Regions from separate parts of the Homo sapiens genome. Here all the other regions are linked to region 3. The links come from fine-mapping of genetic effects on gene expression. A gene starts in region 3. Each other region holds a variant in brackets. All regions are shown on one strand. Distances are from middle to middle.

The links. PIP is the estimated chance that this variant, and not a neighbour inherited with it, causes the effect. A credible set is the group of variants that fine-mapping cannot tell apart.
Region 1: its variant is the best candidate, but not a certain one, in a credible set for the expression of ADAM22 in tibial nerve (GTEx, PIP 0.77).
Region 2: its variant is the best candidate, but not a certain one, in a credible set for the expression of ADAM22 in whole blood (INTERVAL, PIP 0.78).
Region 4: its variant is the best candidate, but not a certain one, in a credible set for the expression of ADAM22 in whole blood (INTERVAL, PIP 0.52).
Region 5: its variant is the best candidate, but not a certain one, in a credible set for the expression of ADAM22 in whole blood (INTERVAL, PIP 0.66).

What each region holds. Positions count from the first base shown.
Region 1 is chr7:88,855,155-88,860,263 of GRCh38, forward strand. All of the region lies in intron 1 of ZNF804B (zinc finger protein 804B), which reads left to right. Among named protein-coding and RNA genes, the nearest start is that of TEX47, 62 kb to the left of the region's middle. The variant A/G (reference allele first, on the strand shown) is at 2,723.
Region 2 is chr7:87,785,046-87,790,154 of GRCh38, forward strand. All of the region lies in intron 8 of RUNDC3B (RUN domain containing 3B), which reads left to right. Among named protein-coding and RNA genes, the nearest start is that of SLC25A40, 89 kb to the right of the region's middle. The variant C/T (reference allele first, on the strand shown) is at 2,479.
Region 3 is chr7:87,931,349-87,936,457 of GRCh38, forward strand. It overlaps ADAM22 (ADAM metallopeptidase domain 22), which reads left to right and starts at 2,903. Exons shown (of 32, transcript NM_001324418.2): 1 at 2,903-3,202; 2 at 3,678-3,838. The coding sequence starts at 3,118. RefSeq lists a silencer at 2,806-3,215 and enhancers at 3,322-3,899, 3,900-4,477, 4,026-4,075, 4,086-4,165.
Region 4 is chr7:87,855,872-87,860,980 of GRCh38, forward strand. SLC25A40 (solute carrier family 25 member 40) reads right to left here. Exons shown (of 12, transcript NM_018843.4): 2 at 4,701-4,769; 3 at 2,760-2,880; 4 at 421-480. The coding sequence starts at 2,856. Among named protein-coding and RNA genes, the nearest start is that of SLC25A40, 18 kb to the right of the region's middle. The variant C/A (reference allele first, on the strand shown) is at 2,493.
Region 5 is chr7:87,908,042-87,913,150 of GRCh38, forward strand. It overlaps DBF4 (DBF4-CDC7 kinase regulatory subunit), which reads left to right. Exons shown (of 12, transcript NM_006716.4): 12 at 1-1,512. The coding sequence ends at 122. Among named protein-coding and RNA genes, the nearest start is that of ADAM22, 24 kb to the right of the region's middle. The variant A/ATATAT (reference allele first, on the strand shown) is at 2,765.

The DNA.
Region 1 (5,109 bases), 920 kb after region 3:
TCTAGATCCCTGAGAAATCACCACACTGACTTCCACAATGGTTGAACTAGTTTACAGTCTCACCAACATTGTAAAAGTGTTCCTATTTCTCCACATCCTCTCCAGCACCTGTTGTTTCCTGACTTTTTAATGATCGCCATTCTAACTGGTGTGAGATGGTATCTCATTGTGGTTTTGATTTGCATTTCTCTGATGGCCAGTGATGATGAGCATTTTTTCATGTGTCTGTTGGCTGCATAAATGTCTTCTTTTGAGAAGTGTCTGTTCATATCCTTTGCCCACTTGTTGATGGGGTTGTTTGTTTTTTTCTTGTAAATTTGTTTGAGTTCATCGTAGATTCTGGATATTAGCCCTTTGTCAGATGAGTAGATTGCAAAAATTTTCTCCCATTCTGTAGGTTGCCTGTTCACTCTGATGGTAGTTTCTTTTGCTGTGCAGAAGTTCTTTAGTTTAATTAGATCGCATTTGTCAATTTTGGCTTTTGTTGCCATTGCTTTTGGTGTTTTGGACATGAAGTCCTTGCCCATGCCTATGTCCTGAATGGTATTGCCTAGGTTTTCTTCTAGGGTTTGTATGGTTTTAGGTCTAACATTTAAGTCTTTAATCCATCTTGAATTAATTTTTGTATAAGGTGCAAGGAAGGGATCCAGTTTCAGCTTTCTGCATATGGCTAGCCAGTTTTCCCAGCACCATTTATTAAATAGGGAATCCTTTCCCCATTGCTTGTTTTTGTCAGGTTTGTCAAAGATCAGATAGTTGTAGATATGTGGCATTATTTCTGAGGGCTCTATTCTGTTCCATTGATCTATATCTCTGTTTTGGTACCAGTACCATGCTGTTTTGGTTACTGTAGCCTTGTAGTATAGTTTGAAATCAGGTAGCATGATGCCTCCAGCTTTGTTCTTTTGGCTTAGGATTGACTTGGCGATGCGGGCTCTTTTTTCATTCCATATGAACTTTAAAGTAGTTTTTTCCAATTCTGTGAAGAAAGTCATTGGTAGCTTGATGGGGGATGGCAATGAATCTGTAAATTACCTTGGGCAGCATGGCCATTTTCACGATATTGATTCTTCCTACCCACGAGCATGGAATGTTCTTCCATTTGTTTGTATCCTCTTTTATTTCCTTGAGCAGTGGTTTGTAGTTCTCCTTGAAGAGGTCCTTCACATCCCTTGTAAGTTGTATTCATAGGTATTTTATTCTCTTTGAAGCAACTGTGAATGGGAGTTCACTCATGATTTGGCTCTCTGTTTGTCTGTTGTTGGTGTATAAGAATGCTTGTGATTTTTGCACATTGATTTTGTATCCTGAGACTTTGCTGAAGTTGCCTATCAGCTTAAGGAGATTTTGGGCTGAGACAATGGGGTTTTCTAGATACACAATCATGTCGTCTGCAAACAGGGACAATTTGACTTCCTCTTTTCCTAATTGAATACCCTTTGTTTTCTTCTCCTGCCTAATTGCCCTGGCTAGAACTTCCAACACTATGTTGAATAGGAGTGGTGAGAGAGAGCATCCCTGTCTTGTGCCAGTTTTCAAAGGGAATGCTTCCAGTTTTTGCCCATTCAGTATGATATTGGCTGTGGGTTTGTCATAGATAGCTCTTATTATTTTGAGATACGTCCCATCAATACCTAGTTTATTGAGAGTTTTTAGTATGAAGGGCTGTTGAATTTTGTCAAAGGCCTTTTCTGCATCTATTGAGATAATCGTATGTTTTTTGTCGTTGGTTCTGTTTATATGCTGGATTACGTTTATTGATTTGTGTATGTTGAACCAGCCTTGCATCCCAGGGATGAAGCCCACTTGATCATGGTGGATAAGCTTTTTGATGTGCTGCTGGATTCGGTTCGCCAGTATTTTATTGAGGATTTTTGCATCCATGTTCATCAGGGATTTTGAAACCAACGAGAACAAAGACACAACATACCAGAATCTCTGGGACACATTCAAAGCAGTGCGTGGAGGGAAATTTATGGCACTAAATGCCCACAAGAGAAAGCAGGAAAGATCTAAAATTGACACCCTAACATCACAATTAAAAGAACTAGAGAAGCAAGAGCAAACACATTCAAAAGCTAGCAGAAGGCAAGAAATAACTAAGATCAGAGCAGAACTGACAGAAATAGAGACACAAAAAAACCCTCCAAAAAATCAATGAATCCAGGAGCTGGTTTTTTGAAAAGCTCAACGAAATTGATAGACCACTAGGAAGACTAATAAAGAAGAAAAGAGAGAAGAATCAAATAGATGCAATAAAAAATGATAAAGGGGATATCACCACCGATCCCACAGAAATACAAACTACCATCAGAGAATACTATCAACAACTCTACACAAAAAAACTAGAAAATCTAGAAGAAATGGATAAATTCCTGGACACCTACACCCTCCCAAGAGTAAACCAGGAAGACATTGAATCTGTGAATAGACCAATAACAGGCTCTGAAATTGAGGCAATAATTAATAGCTTACCAACCAAAAAAAGTCCAGGACCAGATGGATTCACAGCCTCATTCTACCAGAGGTACAAGGAGGAGCTGGTACCATAACTGCTGAAAGTATTCCAATCAATAGAAAAAGAGGGAATCCTCCTTCATTTTATGAGGCCAGCATAATCCTGATACCAAATTCTTTCTTCCCTTTCTTTCTCCTTTCCTTTCTTTTCTTTTTTTTTTTTTTTTTTTTTTTTTTTTTGTCACTGCTGCCCAGACTGGAGGGC[A/G]GTGGCACACAATCTCGGCTCACTGCAACCTCCACCTCCCAGGATCAAGCGATTTCATGCGTCAGCCTCCTGAATAGTTGGGATTACAGGCTTGTGCCATCATGCCCAGCTAATTTTTGTAGTTTTAGTAGAGACAGGGTTTTGCCATGTTGGCTATGCTGGTCTCCAACTCCTGACCTCAGGTGATCTGCCCACCTCAGCCTCCCAAAGTGCTGGGATTACAGGTGAGAGCCACGGCACCTGGCCTGCATTTCTTTACCTATAATTATCTATCTCTCTTGACCTCTAATGTCACTAATTCATAAATAGCAAAAAAGTCTAAATACTTCTCCTCAAATTAGGCTAACCTCTGAGTTTTTCTTGCTGGGTATTACTTTCCTAGTTTCCTTTCTTCAAGGTACTTTCACCAACATAAAGCCTCTTGTAGCAATTAGTTAAATTTGATAAATTTTATCACTTATTGGAAGGATAGAAAGTAACTTTAGCAACAAAAATATGAAAATAAGCATGAATATTACTTGAAGTCAAAGGGTAGTTAGAGATGGGGTGATGATTCTTTGTTTAAAATTAAAGCCATTACTTTTTATACAGTTGGTGATTATCAGAGAGGGACAGAGAGAATGGGGCATGCAATAGAATTTGATGAATATTTTATAGTTGGTGAAAATAGAAAAGCAGTTACTAAACACTGCCAGATGATGTGCTGCTGTAGGATCCCTGAAGTGGTAGAGCAGAATGAACATACTGGGGTACTTTGAGGCCAAGTACAGACATGATTAAAAAATCTCGTTAACAGAAAGGCCATAATGAATTATATTTATAGTAATATTGAGATAATAATAATATCATTTGAAAGACTTTTGGAGACATTTTAGCGTGGATAAACATAGTTATTTTCCAGAATAATGATTTTGAAAATAACTGTTAGCATTATGTATTTGAGAAAACACAGCGGCAACAACTGTGAACTTGATGCCAATATTTTCTGACTTTTTGTTTTTCTGGTTCTATAGCTATAAGGTAGGCATATTTTCAACAGTAATTTTAGGAAATAAAACAGCTTGAGATGGAAGATTATTAATGAGGAGGCTTATGAACATTCCCTGAATGTTTAGGAATGGATATATAAATGAACACCATTATGAACGCATTAAATATTAATATTGATATTTAAGTATATATTTTACTTATCATTGGACCTCTGTCTAATGAGCATATAGGTTTTATTGGGTTTATTTTCAGGCAACGCTCTTCACCAATCAAATGAATAAGAATGAGGAATTTTTGCTTACTTTAGGAGCTATGGGTGTGCGTGCATGTGTGTGTTTGTGTGTGTGTGCTGTTTCTGTATGGGTAATATTTAGGTGTAGTGTTTTGTCTATATTTATCTAAAAACTTATGACTTAATGACAACTCATCAGATACAACTAATGAGTTTAGCAGAAAAATTGGATTAGGCCATTTTTTCATCTGTTTTACAAAAACTGATATAAGCCAGTTTAATAAAAGGGCACAAGCTTTTCTCTAAATGGTAATTTTATAAGACATTTAAAAATAATAATTCAATCTACTTTTATGTGGGTCATGATTTATGTGAGTTATGTGAATCATGATTCAGCAAAATTTTATTTGGGGAATAAGAATATACTATTCTCTTTAATTCTCTCTTTCATTAGTTTGAATAACAACTTAGCACCATAATTTACAGACATAATGTTTTCTAGTTTTGATCTGACAACTTAAATCTAACAATTAATAAGATAATTTATAAATAATCAGGCCCATTAGGACAGAAATGCTTTCCATAGCAATTATGTGCAGCTAAATGTTTCCTCAAGGAAACATTTGACTCTATGTCCATGTGCATGCATATGGAAATATAGTGTTATTTAGATATAAACTAATATCTATTGTTTAAGCTAATATTATATAATAGATATCTGAGTATTCAGAAACAACTTAAAAATGTGCTTTTAGTCAAAAGGATAATTCCTGAAATTTATTACCTTCATTTAAAAAATATAAATTTCCTTATGTACTTCAAAAAGAATAAAGTTATGGAGCTGTGTAAATTTCTCTATTGAGAAAAATCAATATTTTATAAATATTTTTAAATTATAGAAAAAGTAAGGTTAATATTTGATGTTTTATACCTAAACTTTCAAAAATATAATGTTCTCTTGCGTCTGTTTTCTTTTAAAATCTGGTTACACTGACTTCAGATATAATTAAGAACTCTGCTTTGTTATATTTGGAAAATCAAAACATACCAGATTTGAGCTGATAGAAAAAGAAAATGCTCTTGCTCAGAGTATTACAATATAAAATATTGTAGAGGGCAATAGTATATTCAAAACCTTTTTCTTTGAAGAAATAAAAAATGGGTA
Region 2 (5,109 bases), 150 kb before region 3:
TCCCCAGGCAGTGTGTTGGTGCCACGGATTTATAGCTCGTGTGGTGCCTGCAGCCCAGGGTTTTTAGCCTGGCAAATGGCTGTGGGATCCCCCAAACAGATCTCCCTCCAGTGTCTGCCCCAGGAACAGACCTAACCAGCTAGATTTGTTCCAAGCTTTCTGTGCTGAAATTGCGGGGCTGTCCCAAGTGTTCCAGGCCATGGGGCTCCCTCAAGCAGAAGGTACGACTGGTCAACAGACTGAACCCTTCCCAGGCTGGTCTTGTGGAAGGAAGGATGCCCAGCTCCCTTGGCAGCACATGAACTCACGCCTCCCTGTTTGTGTTCTGAGTGGGGGCTCCCTCCTCACTAGAGCTGTAACCACAGATCCCAGTTCTGGAACCCTGGACAGTGTACTCCAACCCTGGGAGGTTGGGACTGGGCCTGCAGCTTTGTCCTCTGGCCCCATAGGGTTGAACACCAGCTGTGCTGGGGAAGCTAAACTGCTCCCAGGTCACTGGCAAAACACTCAGGCGGGGCAGTGCAGGCTGTGCTCTGTGCACCCTCTTACAGGAATGGCGAGGCAGGTGGCTTTGAGAGGAGCTGGAAGACAAGGGGGCATGTGGATCAGCCTTGCCCAATCCCATGAGAAAGGGAGCACTACTTTCTCCTGGCTCTGCAGTCAGTAGGGGCTCCAGTCACTCAGAGCAAGATGGAGAGACTTAGGGGATGGGAACCTATGGTTGCCTTTTGCTGTAGCTGTCTCATGTTCCATGAACCCTTCTGAGCTCTGCACAGGTTTGAGCTCTGCCTCTGCATACTCTGTGGGCAATTCCTTTGCCAACTCAAATGTCTGTGTGGGTTGTGGGATCTTTTATAGTTAGGATCCCCGAGGTGTGGTGTTCTGTAGTTCCTTCACTCCCCCCTTGCTTTGGCTCTGTTCAGGACCGAGAGCTGGTCCTTGTGCTAAGAGATTCTATGCAGGCTTTCCAACTTCCTTTTCAACCTTGGTGTCTGCATCACCTCTCTCTCAACTTTCAGTGTTTTCTCTCAAACAATCTGTTTGAAATGTGATGGTTTACTTGATATTTTGGTTTCTCTTGAAGGGAGATGTGTTTCCTGGCTATATCTAATTGGCCATCTTGTCCCCTGCCTCCTAAAAACGTTCCTAGAATTGGACTCTGCAGACACTGTCCCAGTAGCAGCCCAGCTCCACTTCCTCCTTCCAGTGTTATTTTGTAATGAGATACTTTGAGACTAAGTATCATAGACTAAAAATCATCATAAAAGATGATTTTTAAAGTTAGAAAGTTTTATTAAGGAACAAAAAATTTTAATATTTTTTAGGAATTTGTATTTTGATGAAAAGAATTATGTTTACATATTTTTTCTTCTTTTTTTTTAATGGTATTTTAAAGAGAGTTTGTCCTATGAGGCATCACTGGGTAGGGAAGAGATTAACACCTTTCTTAACCCCTTGCTTCCATTAGCAGGGAGAAAAATATCAAGAGCCAAACAGTAGAGATTTCTGGTTATTAAAAACCAGATTTCTGGTTATATAAAATTATAATTTTACAATTAAAATATTAAGAAGATAATTTCATTTTTCTTTTACAAACAATACTGGTAGTTTAAATGCTTTTAACATAAAATAATTATGAAATCACTTTATTTTTTCAAAAGAGATGTTTTCATTTTAAGAATTAAATTTAAATGGATCACATTTATCTTACTTTGGATAATTGAAAGGAAACAAAGACTTTCAAACTTTCAAGTTTGAGAAATTAATCTACCTGAGTTATGATTCTGTCGTATTTCTGGATGTAGGAGTGCCATTGATCCTCTTGATTTTTGCAAAGGAAGCTTTCAGTTGTCTTTAATAACCTTAATTTAATACCTTTAATTTTAATTAAATATTACTGGAGCAACAAAATAATTATGGCCACTGATCAGAATTAGACTATTTTCTTGAGTTGAGAGGTTAAAGATTTACTTTCATATAGTATGGCTTCAATTTTTAGATAGGCATAAGGCATAAATTGGTGTCTTCTAAGATTCTTTCATACAAAAACCACTTTCAAGGATACTGAACAGGAGCATAAGATACATTTCTTTGTGAATGTTCACAATTCACTACTTTATCAGAATCAGCTTTAAGAAATGCAGAACAGTGTGGATATTTTTGCAGCTATAGTGAAAGAGTGAATATGTTTTATCCTTATCTTGCTGAGATTTTTAAAAAATCAACTGTCAAGAAGGCCTATAATCAAAGTTGGGCATTGAAATTTCCTTTGTTACTCCTGAGAAGATAAAAGTAGCCCTCAGAAAATTAAAATTGTAAAGGAAAAGGCCAGAGAAGGAATACTGATAGGTAGAATATGAGGCATGTAATATTTGCTTCTACATTGTGTTGATTTTTTTTCCTGGGCAATTTAAATCCTGAGTCACTTAGTTTTATGTATTTCTTGATGATTAGATGTATTTTGAATTACTATTAAAA[C/T]GCTTTTTGATTATGTCGTTGAATACTCATAAAATATATACATTTTGTAGTTTGGGCAACAGAGTACAAGTTAGTGTGGAGTATTACAGGAGCATTCTAAAGCTGTCTTGAAAATCAGGACTGTGCTCTACACTTTCCAGTTGTGAGGTCTTAATGTTTCTTCATCTATATAACAGAGATAACATACTCACTTTGTGAACCATTATGAGTATTAATGGTGTTAAGTATATAAAAAAGAAGGCATTCAAAGGTTTATTCCTCTGCTTTTATATATGGGAACCTTAAAATCTCCTTTATAAATTCACTCAGGGAGATAAGTAGAAAATTAAAATCTTTTGTCAAAATGCTACGGATCAAACAATGAGTTTTGACTCTATCATATTATCCCCAAGTTCCAAGAAACTCACTTTTGAGTTCTGATTTCCAAACGGCAATGGGATTAATCTTTTAAATAATAGTATTTGTATGTACCATGCCTGTAAGACATATGTGTTTGCTTAACAGGTATCACTTGTAACTGTAATTCTTTTTGTCAGTCATATGTTTGATGCAATACTAATTTAAAGTATTTTAAAAGGCATTGACAAAGGTATATTTGAATGATTAAGATTATGGTGGGCCAAGCACAGTGGCTCATGCCAGTAATCCCAGAGCTTTGAGAGGCCAAGGCGAGAGAATCACTTGAGGCCTGCAGTTCAAGACCAGCCTGGAAAACACAGCAAGACCCCCATCTCTACAAAATACGAAAAATTAGTTGGGTGTGGTGCTGTGTGCCTGTAGTCCTAGTTTTTTGGGAGGAACTATGATGGCATAAGTGCATTCCAGTCTGGGAAACAGAGTGAGACACTGTGTCCAAAACAAAGAGAAAAAGATTTTGGTGGTTAGAATATTTAAGTATTGAATCATTTCAATCTTCTACTATTATGATTAGTAATAATAGTATAATTTCATTGGGAGACACAGGATTATTCTAGGTTTTGGTTCTTATGGTTTTATGGAAATCTGTGTACAGCTTGACTTTAGTTGGCTCCAGTAACTGTTTTAACTCTTATTTATATATTAAATTTTATTCAATAAAAGAAATATAAACAAGCTTAAAGTACCAATTGTACTTTGGATCAGTATATGGAAAGTTTGTTAAAAGATTAAAAAATGTATTTGTTTATGGCCTTTTCAAAACTTTTTTTTTTTTTTTTTCTTTTCTTTTTTTATTATACTTTAGGTTTTAGTAGGGTACATGTGCACATTGTGCAGGTTAGTTACATATGTATACATGTGCCTTTTCAAAACTTATTGTCATAATTATTTATGCTAATTGGTGGAAAAACTTCAGTTTTGAATTTAGTATTTTTCAGTAAACATATATTTAAATGTATACTTTGTACCTGAGATTGCCCAAGTAGTTGAGAATATCGACAATAATAAGGCATGTTCTCTTTTTACATGGGATTCAAAATCTCCTGAAGTAGTTAGATTTAACATCAATCACATTGTTACTTGAAGGGTGCCATATATAAGAGAGGGGTTTTGTCAACATCTAGAGGTACAGACTGTCAGATAGATGATCTATTGTACAAATGATTCTTTGTAAAACATGCATTCCAACCTCAGGAATAAATAGCCACGGAACAGCTTGCAAAGCTTGAACACATTTGTCATATTTAACACCAATAATTGTTTTCTATTTTGTTTTCCTAGTTAGCTGATGAATGTTTTTTCTCTTTATGGTTTGAAAGATTATGGCAACAGTAACCTGTCCTATATGGTTTCCTAGTAAAGAAACTGAAGTGTCACTCATAGTGAAATATAAGTAAAGAATAATTCATTGTTAAAACTAGGCCATTGTTACAGTTGAAAAGCCAATTTAGTGTAGTTCGTAGTGAGTACTGATGGCATGATCTATCAGCCTACAAACCATAAGTCAGTGATACTATGCCATTCTGATGCACAAGTTTAAGATGAGTGGTATGAATCCTAACAAGAGTGCAATGATGACATTATAACGGACAGATTATGACAGTTTCTACTCATCTGGTCATGTATACATTTTGGCAGGTAATAATTCTAATTAAAATTTAAAATTAAAATCATGTTAATATGTATTATATAATCTACTGCCCATATATGGATGAAAAATCAAGAAAATGTATCCAGAAGAGAAAAATGCCAAGCCCCAGAAGGATAAACCATGTTCTATTGCACTTCCTTGGGTATTAATCGGAAATTAGATATTACAACAGGAAAGAGTAGTAATTTGATATTGATAGTATTTCCTCTGCCTGAAGAAAGAGCAAGAACGACTTTGTATTGTGGTTTGAGTGCCAGCTTACCCTCAGTATAACAGAACATAAAGTAAATTATTAAAGTTTTTGACTGCCACCCTTGGCCCCTAGACAGCATCTCTGGACCCACCCAGGGCCTGGGCAACTCACTGCCCTGAAGGGAAGGACACAAGCCTGGCTGGCTTCACTATCTGCTGATCCTGGAACCCTAGGGCCTTGAGTGAACATAGGTGGTAGTCTGGTAGTGGTTGCAGCAGTGCTTGGGTGAGACCCAGTGCTGTCCTAGCTTCAGGTATGACCTAGTGCAGTCCCAGTGATGGTGGCCATAGGAGGGCTTACATCACCACAC
Region 3 (5,109 bases):
TCAAAATACCACCATTATCCTTCACAGAGCTAGAAAAAACAATCTTAAAATTCATATGGAACCAAAACCCACATAGCCAAAGCAAGACGAAGCAAAAAGAACAAATCTGGAGGCATCACATTATCTGACTCCCAACTATACTATAAGGCCATAGTCACCAAAGTAGCATGGTACTGGTATAAAAACAGGCACATAGTCCAATGGAACAGAATAGAAAACCCAGAAAGAAAGCAAAATACAGCCAACTGATCTTCCGTAAAGCAAACAAAAACACAAAGTGGGGAAAGCACATCCTATTCAACGAATGGTGCTGGAATAATTGGCAACCCACATACAGAAGAATGAAACTGAATCTTCATTTTTCATCTTACACAAAAATCAACTCAAGATGGATCAAGACTGAAATCTAAGACCTGAAACCATAAAGATTCTGGAAGATAACTCAGAAAAACCCTTCCAGACATTGGCTTAGGCAAAGACTCCATGAGCAAGAACCCAAAAGCAAATGCAACAAAAGAAAGATAAATAGATGGGACCTAATTAAATGAAAAAGCTTCAGCACAGCAAAAGAAATAATCAGCAGAGTAAACAGACAACCCACAGAGTGGGAGAAAATTTTCGTAAACTATGCATCTGACAAAGGACTAATATCCAGAATCTACAAAGAACTCAAACAATCAGCAAGAAAAAAACAACAACAAACAATCCCATTAAAAAAGCGGGCTAAGGACATGAATAGACAATTCTCAAAAGAAGATATACAAATGGCCAACAAACATATGGAAAAATGCTCAACATCACTAATTATCAGGGAAATGCAAATCAAAACCACAATGCGATACCACCTTACTCCTGCAAGGATGGCCATAATAAAAAAAAATAGATGTTGGCATGGATGCAATGAAAAGGGAACACTTTTACACTGTTTGTGGGAATGTAAACTAGTATAACCACTATGGAAAACAATATGGAGATTCCTTAAAGAACTAAAAGGAGATCTACTATTTGATCCAGCAATCCCACTACTAGGTATCTACCCAGAGGAAAATAAGTCATTATACAAAAAAGAAACTTGCACATACATGTTTATAGCAGCACAATTTACAATAGCAAAAATATGGCACCAGTCAAAAGGCCCATCAATCAACGAGTGGATAAAGAAAATGTGGCATATATATACCATGGAATACTATTCAGGCATAAAAAGGAACAAAATAATGGCATTCGCAGCAGCCTGGATGGAAATGGGGACTATTATTCTAAGTAAAGTAACTCAAGAATGAAAAACCAAACTTTGCATGTTCTCACTCATATGTGGGAGCTAAGCTATGAGGACACAAAGGCATAAGAATGATACATTGGACTTGGGGACTCAGGGGAAAGGGTGGGGGATGGTGAGGGATAACAGACTACACATTGGGTACAGTGTACACTGCTCGGGTGATGGGTACACCAAAATCTCAGAAATCACCACTAAAGAACTTATTCATGTAAACAAACACAACCTGTTCCCCAAAAGCGATTGAAATACAAAAATAAATAATAAACACTCGGAAAAAAAAAATAGCCTCAAGTAACTACTGGCTACAGTATTTGAAAGGCACACCTCTAAATCTTAATTTTTTTCCTTTCTAAAATGGGAGTAGGCATGTGCAGTGGCTCACATCTGCAATCCCAGCACTTTGTGAGGCCAAGGTGGAGCCCAAGAGTTCAAGAGCATCCTGATCATCATGGGGAGACTCTTGTCTCTACAAAAAGTAATAATAATAACAAAAAATAGCCAGGTGTGGTGTCACATGTCTGTGGTCCCAGCTATTTGGGAGGCTGAGGCAGGAGGATGGCTTGAGCCCAGGAGCTTGAGCTGCAGTGAGCCGTGTTCTCACCACTTGCACTCCAGTTGGGGCGACAGAGCAAGACCCTATCTCAAAAATACATACATACATACATACGTACATACATAAATATAAAATCAGAGTAATAGTTATAATCAAATTCTTGACCAAAGGATCAGATAATACATGTGAACTTTGAAAAACTAAAAAATACAAGTATTACTTTATGTAGATAACTATTTTATTATTGTTTTATACTCAAGAATTTCTATCATTTTGAATCAGAGGAAAATGGAATAAGCAGCCTGAGAAAACTGAGTTCCCCATATCTGGTAGAGTTTTGAGGCTGTCTGGCAATAAAGAACAAAAATATCCCGTAGAGTTAAGCTAAATCATCCCTCTATTACCTGCAGAGACCTTCCCTGGGAGGTCCTCTTTGACTCCCTGGACTGAATTAATGGTCCTCTAGGTATAACCATGACACTTTTCACACTGTATTGTAAAAAAAAGTGGTCTGTCTGCTCAACTTTACCCAAGAACAGGTGCCTCTGATCCCCGTGTCCTTCCGGTTGTCAACCGCTGGGTACATAGTATATCCTCAATCTGTATTTGTTGAATAATTCACTAGCACTGTATTCGTGAGGGTATGGTTCTCCGGATAACTTAAGTAACTACTAATCTGTGGTAAACAGAACAGCTCTTTAAGGACGATGCAGATGAATACTGGCTGCTGTAACGGCCCAGTTGGTGCATCTCGGATGCCAGGAGGCGGTCCAGTGCTGATCTCTTTCTTTTGCCCTTCCCTCCCGCCCTTCCAGTCTGTGGGATATAGAGGACCTCACAGTCACGAGGTCGCGACGGTCCGTGCCGTCGTGGAGACAAGCGGGACACGGAGAGAGAACTACATTTCCCAGCTGACTCTCCTGCGCGCGCCCTTGCCTGCGCGCGGGGGGCGAGTGCACCGGGCGCTCGCTCCCTGCCGAGCTCTTGTCGCCCGCCCGAGCCTTTGCCAGGGGATGAGGTGGGAGGCGCTAGAAACCACTTAGCTACAGCCAACCGCCCAATGCAGCACTCGCTCGCTCCCCCCGCCAGCGGAAGCGTCCGCGAAGCACAATGCAGCACTGAGCCGCGGTGGAGGTTGCAGCGCCACGGCCGCCGCAGCACCGGCCGGGGCTGGGTGGAGGTGGCCGCGGGGACCCCGGGGGCGCGGAGCGAGGGAAACGGACTCGGCGGCGCCGGCATGAGGAGCTGAGCGTCTCGGGCGAGGCGGGCTGACGGCAGCACCATGCAGGCGGCAGTGGCTGTGTCCGTGCCCTTCTTGCTGCTCTGTGTCCTGGGGACCTGCCCTCCGGCGCGCTGCGGCCAGGCAGGTAAGTTAGCCGTCCTCTGTGCCTTTGGGCCATACCATTTCCCGGGAATCTTTGGAGCCCTCAGGCGTATTGAAAAGGGGGCATCCCCATTTCCCGAGTGCGCGGGGAGATTTTTTTTTTTTTTTTTTTTAATTCGGGAGGGTGGTGAGAAGTGGAGCAAAAATATATGTGTGGAGGCGCGCAGATGCACTGGAAGCCTTCGGTCAAAGCCTGTTTTTCTCCTTCTGAAGAGGAATGGGGAGAATGGGAAAGGGGTGCCCTGCTTCTGGGCCCCGCTCCTGGTTGCTCTCGGATGAGCTGGTCCAAGGCTCTCGGGCTGGTGTCTCTGCGTCCTTCCCAGTTGGGTTCCGAGAGGGAGGGGGCGGTGGGGATTTTCGTAGGGGAGACGTAGGACTGCAGGATGGAGGAGTGAGGGTCAGGGTCATTATTTTCGCCTTTTCTCTCCACTCCCTCCTTTCCCGGTTCCTGCCTGGAGGAGACGCCTCATTGATGGAGCTAGAGAAGAGGAAGGAAAACCGCTTCGTGGAGCGCCAGAGCATCGTGCCACTGCGCCTCATCTACCGCTCGGGCGGCGAAGACGAAAGTCGGCACGACGCGCTCGACACGCGGGTGCGGGGCGACCTCGGTGGCCCGCAGGTGAGAGGCTCGGTCCGGGAGGTGGTCCTCCGCGCCTCCCGGCCCACCCGAGACCCCACGATTGCGCTCGGTTGCCCTGGAGATCCCATGTCTTCTTGGGTGAAATGAGTTGGGTCCCGATGCGAGTCATGCATGGCGCTCCCTGTGCAAAAAAGAAGGGGAAAAGGGTACAAAAAAGAACCAAAATAACCACAGGCCGAGGGCTTTGCCCGAGGGGAGTTTGTGCGGGGTGCCTTCAGCAGTGCGGTGAGCTGAGAGAACAGGCGGAGAGCCCTCTGACATCTGTCAAGCAAAAGCCAGGCATGCACAGCGAGAAGGGAGGTAGTATTTGGGCAGGGTTTGAATCATCATTGTTGTTGTTTTACTCCTCAAAGAGACTTCATAAGTGATTTAACCCAAGGTTGACACTGTAAGAAAAAATTGGAAAAAAACAAGGCTAGACGTTCTTAAGAAACCCAACTGTAAAAACAAGCTGAACTTTAAGGTTCTATTCGCACACATTTGTGGACACCAGAGATATGCCCATTCACCCCTACCTTCTAGAAAAGGTGTCCTCCTCCGACTTTCTTTATTGGTAGCAGTTCTCTTGGTTTAATTAGGGCTGTGCTGTTTGTTGAGCATTTATAAATTATGTTTTTAAAAATCTAGTTTTTATCACTGTATCTGTATTTAAATCAAGATCACACATTCACAGATATGCCTGAAAATTACTGTGAATTTATTGACAAATTTAAGTAAATACTTCTGGGGCTGTGTATTTTTTTATTTCTACACATCAGCTGATCAGGCAGTTCACCCACCTGTAAGTCCATATTAAGATAGGACTTGTTCATGTACTTGAAAATTTTTGTAAACTTTACTGAAGCAATGGCAAGCCAAACCTTTTCACATGTATAAATATATTCATCAGTGCTTTAAGATATATCTTGATGATGTGATAATTATACTAACTTATCTGTATGTGTGAAATATGTAAAAATAGAAAATATTACTTAAATCTGTATTTGTAGCCAAGTAGTTGGTACTGTTAACATTTTGTTAATAGAAGGTGGGAAATTAGCTTAAAGGGCTACATAATATCCATCAAAGATTATTTTAGTAGAAAATCCCAATATGTTAAGCTTTTAATGATGGATTCTTTTATGTGAATTAATGGTTGGTAAATGCCTATTTTCCTTTTCCATTTTGACTCGTTTCAATGGTAAAACTGAAGAAGCAGGGGCCATAGTTTCCCTATGTCATCGTATTTTTCAATTAATTAAGATTATTTC
Region 4 (5,109 bases), 75 kb before region 3:
AACTACTATCCAGAAATTAACCAAGCTGTCTGATAAAATAATAAATTTCCAATCACTATATTCAAGCAATAGTTGTATGATGGTCATGAATGCTCTAACATGGGCACAACTTTTGGACACAGGAGTAAGCTGGATTCTAAGGTCCCTCACAAATATAATTCTGTTCTTACCTCTGAGGCACAAATACAAATACATAACCATCCTTTGCTTTAATTAGTAGGTCCATATAAATATTATGTATTTATTTGCTTTTTGCCTACACCTCATCACGTACAACTAAATGGTGAAAAAAAAAGTTTTTCATGAGGATAAAGAGGCATCAATTTTAATAAATTAGCAAATGAATGTTAGGCAAAAAAAAAAACCACAGGAACATTTAAAAATCAAACATAACATTTTTAGGGCAATTAGTACACATACCTTTGGGGAGTGGGTTGTTTTGGGCTTGGAGTCTAATTTTAACAACATCCAGGGGTGTCACTATGAAGATATGTTAAGTTTCAATTAGCGAGTGGTATCTGTAAATTGGATAGATGTTTTACACAGAACACAAAATACATTGATTCATACTTTTCCTCATGGCTATATAATTGGTAAGCTTATTTATCTTAAAGTAGTCTTGAATGTAACATTCTAATTTTTTTGCCCTTAAATTTTGTTAATCAGTGAAAGACAGACGAATTACTTCTCTCATGAGTACTAAACTGTTATTTGTAATATTCCTACAACTATCATTACATTAGCATTAAAGTCAGTATTTATAAGAAAATATGATTTCTAATATAAGAAGTAAAAGTTCCAAAAGACTTTGAGAATAACTTTCTATAAGTAATCAATAGCCAAATGATATTAGTCTTCCCAATCTGTTAAATTTACCTGTATCAAATAAGAGGTACAGATAATAAAAATTTGAGTAAACTAGTCATAAAACATCTTTAGCACTAAGTTATGTTATTCCATTTGGGCATAGCACAGCAAAGGAAAATAGTTTTAATATGCATGCTATATTTTATCCAAGTAGAAACAAATGCCAAATAATGTTTCTAAGAAAACTTTTCCTCATCTTGAGAATGATGATAATTATATTAGATGATCTCTATGACCTTTATAACTCAAATTCTGACCTGAAAATACATCATAAGCAATTAATTTATTTGTTCTAATCATTTGTTATTTACATAAACTAGCCAACTTAAAAATCATTAAAATGCTAAACTATCACCTAACTGTGTCATTTGGCTACATCTACAAGAAGCTGACTGTAAGAAACAGAAAACTGTGAACCAGAGAAATTTAAGAAATTCCGTTAATGCAAAGTAAAGATTATTTGTAATTGTTACGAACATAAATTGTGAAAATTCTGTATTATTCATTATGCTAATATTTTATTCCATCTTCTTGCTTTCTATTATAGACATGGGGAATCAGAAAAGTTTAATGTTGATAGGGACCCAAAAGAAATCCCAGTTATAAGCCCCTAATTTACAGATGAAATAATGAAGTTCAAATAAAAGTTAGATACTGTTCCCAAGTGTATTCACCGTGAGAATGGCAAAGCAAGGACTCAAGTCTCTTGAATCTCTGTCCAGGGTTGTTTTCATATAATAATATGATGAAACATTCATGGATCATAAATGATAGTATGTGTTGCAGGAAGTCAGGGATCCTGAATGGAGGGACCAGGTGGAGCCGCAGCAAAGGAACATAAATTCTGAAGATTTCATGGACATTTACCAGTTCCCAAATAATACTTTCATAATTTCTTACCCCTGTCTTACTTTAATCTCTTAATCCTGTTATTTTTATAAGCTAAGGATGTACATCACATCAGGGCCACTATGATAATTGTGATAACTGTACAAATTGATTGTAAAACATGTATGTTTGAACAATATGAAATAAGTGCACCTTGAAAAAGAACAGAATAACAGCGATTTTAGGGAACAAGGGAAGACAACCATAAGGTCTGACTGCCCGCAGGGTCGGGCAAAATAGAGCCATATTTTTCTTCTTGCAGATAGCCTATAAACGGACATGCAAGTAGGGAAGATATTGCTAAATTATTTTCCTAGCAAGGAATATTAATAATTCATACCCTGGGGAAGGAATGCATTCCTGGTGGGAGGTCTATACATGGCCACTCTGGGAGTGTCTGTCTTATGCCGTTGAGATAAAGACTGAAATACGCCCTGGTCTCCTGCAGTACCCTCAGGCTTACTAGGATTGGGCAACTCCACCCTGGTAAATTTGAGGTCAGACTGGATCTCTGCTCTCAAACCCTCTTTTCTGTTGTTTAAGATGTTTATCAAGACAAAACGTGCACTGCTGAACATAGACCCTTATCAGTAATTCTGCTTTTGCCCTTTGCCTTGTGATCTTTGCTGGACCCTTATCAGGAGTCTGTGATTTTGCCCTTGTCCTGTTTCCTCAGAAGCATGTGATTTTTGTTCTCCTTTTTACCCTTTGAAGCATGTGATCTTGTGACCTTACTC[C/A]CTGTTCTTACACCCCCTCCCCTTTTGAAATCCTTAATAAAACTTGCTAGTTTTGCAGCTCAGGTGGGCAATCACGGTCCTACCAATATGTGATGTCACCCCCGGAGGCCCAGCTGTAAAATTCCTCTCTTTGTACTCTTTATTTCTCAGCCAGCCAATACTTATGGAAAATAGAAAGAAACTACGTTGAAATACTGATACTAAAACTCAAATGGAAGCACTGACTCATTCAAAGTTACATAATCTACATCAGTAACATAATTTTACCTATTACTGATGTCAGTATAGCTCCAGTACATGAGGCAAGCATTTGTTGAAGAGGTGTCACTTTGATAATCTCTTGTCCCCTTGTCTCAGGATCCATATTTTTAACTAATTAAATAAAAACCTGTTAAAAAGAAAACATAAAATTAGAGCACATCCTCTGATCTTTCAAAAATGATAACATCCTTCAGCTAAGCTGGGTGAGCAGCATCACATTAGTAAGACAACTAAGAGAGAATTAACCAAACAGATACTGACAGAATGAAAGCAGGTGACCACTAAGTCTGAGTCTGTGAACTCAGCCTCATACACACTACTAAAAAAACCTCCCCAATAGAGTACAGAGGTATCAGCAAATACAGCCCTTTATTGTATACCAGTAGTTGTTGTACAGATGTAAAATAAAAACACATAACCTTAATAAGTTTTATCTTACAAAAATTTGATGAGAAAAGCAACATAAAAACATAAAAAGTTTTAAAAAGTCAGATAATACAGAACAGTATAAAAATAACTTATGAACTTACTATTCAAAAATAATCACCGGCCAGGCGTGGTGGCTCACACCTGTAACCCCAGCACTTTTGGAGGCCGAGGCGGGCGCATCATGAGGTCGGGAGATCGAGACCAACCTGGCTAACATGGTGAAATCCTGTCTCAACTAAAAATACAAAAAATTAGCCAGGTGTCTGTAGTCCCAGCTACTCGGGAGGCTGAGGCAGGAGAATGGCGTGAACCCAGGAGGCGGAGCTTGCAGTGAGCCGAGATCGCACCACTGCACTCCAGCCTGGGCAACAGAGCAAGACTCTGTCTCAAAAAAAAATAATAATAATAATCACCAGCAACAGGAATGTCATCTTTCCAAATGTCTATGAACATACACACATACATATGTATATGTCTATACACACACATTACATCTAACCAAATATTGTATATTAATCAAACACACGTACACTTATGTGTCCGTGTACATACAGCTTTTCTGAAAAACAGGTCAATACTATTTTGCTTGTTTAGTAGGCTGCTTTAACACTTAAAAACACATTATAGACATTGTGTCAATAAAAACAGATTTACATTTTTATTGCTTGCACGGTAGTTAATTATATTTATTTAATCAGTTTCAGATTGTTAGATATCAGGTTGTTGCCAATTTCCAAACTATAAAATATTCTGCTATAACATTCTTATACATACATATATATATTTTTGTAACCTTCCTACAATTACTGTAGGAAAGATAGTAAGATTGATGGGATAAGCTATTTTAAAACTTGATACAGGGCCAGGTGTGGTGGCTCACACCTGTAATCCTAGCACTTTGGGAGGCCAAGGCAGGTGGATTACCTGAGGTCAGGAGTTTGAGACCAGCCTGGCCAACATGGTGAAATCCAGTCTCTACTAAAAATACAAAAAATTAGCAGGGCATGGTGGCGCAAACCTGTAGTCCCAGTTCCGTGGGGGACTGAGGCATGAGAATCCCTTTAACCCAGGAGGCAGAAGTTGCAATGAGCCAAGATCGCATTACTGCACTCCAGCCTAGGTGACAGAGAAGACTACATGTCAAAATCAAAACAACAACAACAAAAAAAACGTCATACAAATTGCCATGATGCTTTCCAGAAAGCTTGGATCAATCTATACTTCTACTGGCAATATGAGAGTTCCTACTTATCCATGACTTATCAAATTCTCTGTCAAATTACATATAATTTTTTTTCTGAACCATTCAAAAGTAGGCTGCATACATCATGTCCCTTCACCATAAATACATCAGAATATTATCTTATATAATCACAATACAATTATCAAATTCAGGAAACTTAATTTTGAACCGTACTCTACAGTTCATATTCCAATTCTGTCAATAATATCAATAATGTCCTTTATCAAAATAAATAGTAATTTTATTGATTCTTTAGACTTTTATTATCTACCTACCTGGTTTGAGTCTGTTCTTCAACTCTATGCTCCAATATTTTATTGTTTGTAACATCAGTAGCCAAAAACCTGTAATTAAGAAGAAAGTAATTGTCTTATCTTTTCACACAGGAAAAGGATAATAAATCTAAAAGAAAAGAGTACATAAAAACTTTAATACAAAAATCAACAAATACTCATTAAATGCTTTCTACTAATTGCTTTGAAGAATATAAAGAGCACTCCATAAATGCAAGCATTAGTTATAGAAGCATTTTCACAAAAACCTCATGTTATTCTAGTTAATATACTCTGCTTTAAAAACAAATAAGCAAACGACTCTAGAGCCCAAACACAGTGATTAATCTTAGCATCATTTACAGTAGAACAACCAGATTTTGTAACACAAAATTAAAGGGCCAGCATCATC
Region 5 (5,109 bases), 23 kb before region 3:
CAAGCTACACAGAAAAGAGTGGTATATGCAATGTTTTAGATATTTGGGAAGAGGAAAATTCAGATAATCTGTTAACAGCGTTTTTCTCGTCCCCTTCAACTTCTACATTTACTGGCTTTTAGAATTTAAAAAATGCATACTTTTCAGAAGTGATAAGGATCATATTCTTGAAATTTTTATAAATATGTATGGAAATTCTTAGGATTTTTTTACCAGCTTTGTTTACAGACCCAAATGTAAATATTAAAAATAAATATTTGCAATTTTCTACAGAATTGAATACCTGTTAAAGAAAAATTACAGAATAAACTTGTGACTGGTCTTGTTTTACATTATATATATGTTCGTAATTGTTTCCTGAGAATTACAATGAATAATAATTTGCTTTGTCACTGAAAACCACCAGTGAAGTGCAATTTGGGGAATATCAAACTTAGCATTATACATTTGGATATTCTAGTTGTATTGTAAATTTTAAAAGATTATCAGGATAACATGACCTTGCCTTGAAAAACCTAAATTTCATACAGAAAGGAAAAATACATTTCTATGCTTGAATTCTGGAAATCATCAGAAATATTGACACTTGAGGGTCACTGGTGGACCATGCTAGTATTTTGGTGCTGAGTAATTAGATTATGTATAGGGGTAACTGGAAGCCATGAAGGAAGGACTTAACCAGGCTACCAAGTGGAATATAATTTATCTGCTATTTTTAATTACTTACCTTGTAAATAACTTTAATAATATTCAAAAGTTGACTCTCCTGTGGCTCATGCCACAGGATCCCAGCACTTTGGGAGGCCGAGGCAGGCTGATCACGAGGTCAGAAGATCAAGACCATCCTGGCCAACATGGTGAAACCTTGTCTACTAAAAATACAAAAAATTAGCTGGGCATGGCGGCATGCGCCTGTAGTCCCAGCTACTCCCTCCAGAGGCTGAGAATTGCTTGAACCTGGGAAGTGCAGGTTGCAGTGAGCCAAGATTGTGCCACTGTATTCCAGACTGGGTGACAGAGTGAGACTCCATCTCAAAAAAAAAAAAGTTGACTCTACCCCCTAATTTGGTAGGAGATGAAGGAGAAAAGGATGGCATTGAATTATAGATACAGTTTTGGGATATATACAAGGATTGCCTTGATCTGGCACTTACTGATACAAGCATTTGGAGAAGAGAAAATTCAAATATAAGAAATTTCAATTTGAATCTGTGGATATAAGGCATTTGCCTTTGAGTATGTTCTTGTAGGAGTAAGACTACCACCAGTGACATTCAATTGGTTCTATTGCATAGTACATGAATCTATTGTCACTAAAAATTAGGTTACTAATCTTAATTTTTTTGAAATATATGATTCTCAGTACAGGACTAATTCATATGCTTTTCCTGCATACATTATTTTGATCATTTGGATAACATCAATGAACACTGGCTTTTTAACACCTTTGTTTTTCATACCAGTACCTGAAGTAGGCTCAATAAAAGAGTCTTTACAGTGCATACACGCAAACCCTGTTTCCATTGTAAATTATTGTTCCATTTTCTATCACAAATACATGTATGTATGTGTAAACATACGTAAGGTTTCGTAGACAACCTTTGAAAAATCTAAATGGAACTTGGAAAATTATTTGCAGGTTTATTTCCCTTTAGTTATCAGTGTTCCCCAAATTTTCCAAATAACTGAAAGGTATGTAAAGTCACTGTATGATCCTTTGACTTTAAGAGTAACAGTGTCTGGCTGGGCGCGGTGGCTCACGCCTGTAATCCCAGCACTTTGAGAGGCCAAGGCGGGCGGATCACGAGGTCAGGAGATCGAGACCATCCTGGCCAACATGATGAAACCCTGTCTCTACTAAACTACAAAAAATTCGCTGGGCATGGTGGTGCGCTCCTGTAATCCCAGCTACTTGGGAGGCTGAGGCAGGAGAATCGCTTGAACCCCGGAGGCAGAAATTGCAGCGAGCCGAGATTGTGCCATTGCACTCCAGCCTGGTGACAGAGCGAGACTCCGTCTCAAAAAAAAAAAAAAAAAAAGTGTCTTCAATTTACAGTGGTACTCTGGGCATCATTTTACATTAAGTTATACTTACTAAGGAGAAAAAGTCTGAACCCTTCAGTAAAAGTTGTTAAACTATTTGACACTGGATATTGGACTTTTGGAACACCACATGGTCTTCATAATGAGTATTCAGCTTTTTTCAAGTGCTTAAATTTCAGTTTACTTGGAATAATTTCAGTTTACTTGGGCCACCACATACAGTTTGGATTGTGCTGTGCAGCTATGCAGATGGGCACCCAGCCAGTGAGATGAAGGCAGGTTATTTGCAGCAAGTAGTGTGTCCTGGCAATGAGGTGCATCTACCTAGAGGTAGGGGTAGTTTTTCCTATTTTTTACCAAGGCACAGCCAAGGTAGTGTTTACCCAGAAGGTTCTTTGCCTTTTTGTTTTTGTTTGTTGTGTGTGTGGTTTTTCTTTTTTTTTCTTTTTTTTTTTTTTTATTGTTTTTGTTGTTGTTGTTTTGATACTAGGTCTCTCTTGTCCAGGCCTGGTTACCATGGTGCAGTCAGCTCACTGTGGCCTCAGACTCCTGGGCTTAGCTGGGCACTGGCTCATACCTGTAATCCCAGTACTTTGGGAAGCTGAGATAGGAGGATCACTTGTGATCAGGAGTTCAAGGTCAGCCTGGGCAGCATAGCTAAACTTCGTTTTTACAAAAATATATATACACATACATATACATATATATATATGTCTATATA[A/ATATAT]TATATATGTATAATATATATATTTGTCTATACATATATAGACAAAAGTCTATAAAAAGTCATACCACGAGGCCCTCATGGTATGACTTTTGGGTTCCCACAGGAGGCAGACTGAGATGGAATTTGGTATGCAGATGTTTTCTAAGGGGTGCCTTTGGACACCAGTTGACCCCACAGGCAGCTTTTCAAGAGTTGCTAGGTGAAGATGACCAATAAGTCATTTGAGTATGGGTCACTCTAGGAAGGAGCATGACTGTGGGCAACGAGGCTCCTCAGCTGACACAATCCCTGAAGGAGCTGACAGTAGAAGTTGAAAGCTGTTTACTGTCAGTACTCCCAGAAGCTGGGGCAACAAGTTACTGAAGAGGGATCAGGATCAATTACCCCACATAGTGATTCTGCCTGTTGGGTTATTGGCACAAGGAACTCAAAACGGCCGGGTGGTGGTCGCAGCTTATAATTCAACAGGAGTCGCTGAGGTAGGAAACACATTCAAGAGGGTCAAATAAGTGACGGCAAGCAGGTCTACTCCTGTTCCACTCATGGGTTGCCAGACTTATTTTGTCGGGGGCATAGCACCATAAAAACATCTTGAACTCCAACTGTATACTGCATCTTAAATGACAGCCTATTCTCAAGAATATCACCTCCATGCTGATGCTAATTAACAGGCCCTTCCAATACTCTATCAGGAAGCTTCTGGTTGATTCAATATATAATAAGGCTTGTGGATTGCATGATCATGGGCCTACCCCCATGCCTCCTTTGCTGTAAAGGACATCCCCTGGTCTGATACGAAGTTATATATGATGCCACGCCAGTGAAACTCTAAGTCTTAAAAATGCAATGTGAACGACAACAACAACAAAAAGACCTGGCATGTCTATTACTGTGTCCAGTATAATCGACTAGCCACTTCATGCCTAGTTTCTGGCAGTTTGGGCATCTGGCAGTGACAAAAACACTAGCTCGGCTTTGGCGAATAGGAACCTATGCTATGGAGCCCAGAAATAACTTCCATTACTGCCCACCATGACCGCTTTACTCATATGCCCATTGTGCCAGCATCAGGGTAGTATTAACATGCAGTATGAGGAGCCCACACTTCATGCCCACTCCCATATGCCACATGCCTCTATACTTTCTACTGAGTCTTCCAATCTTTCTCTTTCCAGGCCCCTTAGTAGCCAGTGCAAATTATTTCTCACTCCCCAAGACTGTACATATATGCTAAGCTCAGCCTACTTCTCTTTTCACACAAAAGCAATGACCAGGTACCCCACTTGAAATTCTGCCCATTGGCAAGATTTTTCCCTTGTGACTGGCTTTCAATGCCACCACTGAGTAGCCATATGGCAGTTGCCATCTATTTTCATCTTGTAGCCACGGAAGCAACCCATCCATTAACTAAATTTGGGCTTTCCTCGTTTTTCAGCTGGTCTTAAGGGATGACCCATACATCTGTAGGTGTGACCTGAGGGAGAGGCATTAATACAACAATGAATGACATGGGGATCTCAGCCGCCTGTTTATGCAACTTCCTTGAGCTCTCTGGTCCTGCTCTTGCTCAATCCTAAATAAACCAATTCTATTTTACAATGGATTGTTGCTGCATCTGCCTGGTGCTATGACTTGGTAGGTCTTATAAAACCCCAGTTCATGATGGGTAGTGTTGACCACATGGTGGGTTTCGCCTCATGGTCAGGTGTTCCATCTCATACATCATCATCTCATACAACAAAGTATTTTTGCTTTTCAAAAAGTGTGTGACTCTCCATTAAAGAGGGACTGGCCTTACTCTAAAATCCCTTATTTCTGGGCTGTGATTCCTTTACTGTGGGCAGGGAAGTTGCCATAAATTCCTCACAGCATCTTTTCCTACCGCTAAATCCAGAACCTTTGAACCTGCCTGATCATATGGCTGCAGAGCACTTTTCTGCTTGGAAGCTCCACTCACAGTTGGAAGCCTTTCCTGCCACTGGGTTGAAGCAGTATTCCCAGTTGGAACTGACTGCCTTCAGAACCTGAAGAGGCCTAGCAGACATTATGCTTCCTTCATGTTTGGAAGGTTCAGTAGGCAATAATTTGTCTTTTACTTTGGATAGGATTTCCCAGCATGTCCCTGACCAGTGGAACTCTGAAAATGTTACTGATATAACAGGTTCCTGAATTTCTCACCCTATGGAGAACATGTGTCTTATCAAAGTTTCCAGTGTACTAGCAACTTCTTCCTCATCTGATTTGATAAATATATCATCAATATAAAGGGTTAATGTGATAATCTCCATGGCATCCAGATGGTCTAGATTGTTCAAATTATAACAAAGGACAAGAAAGTTTAAATA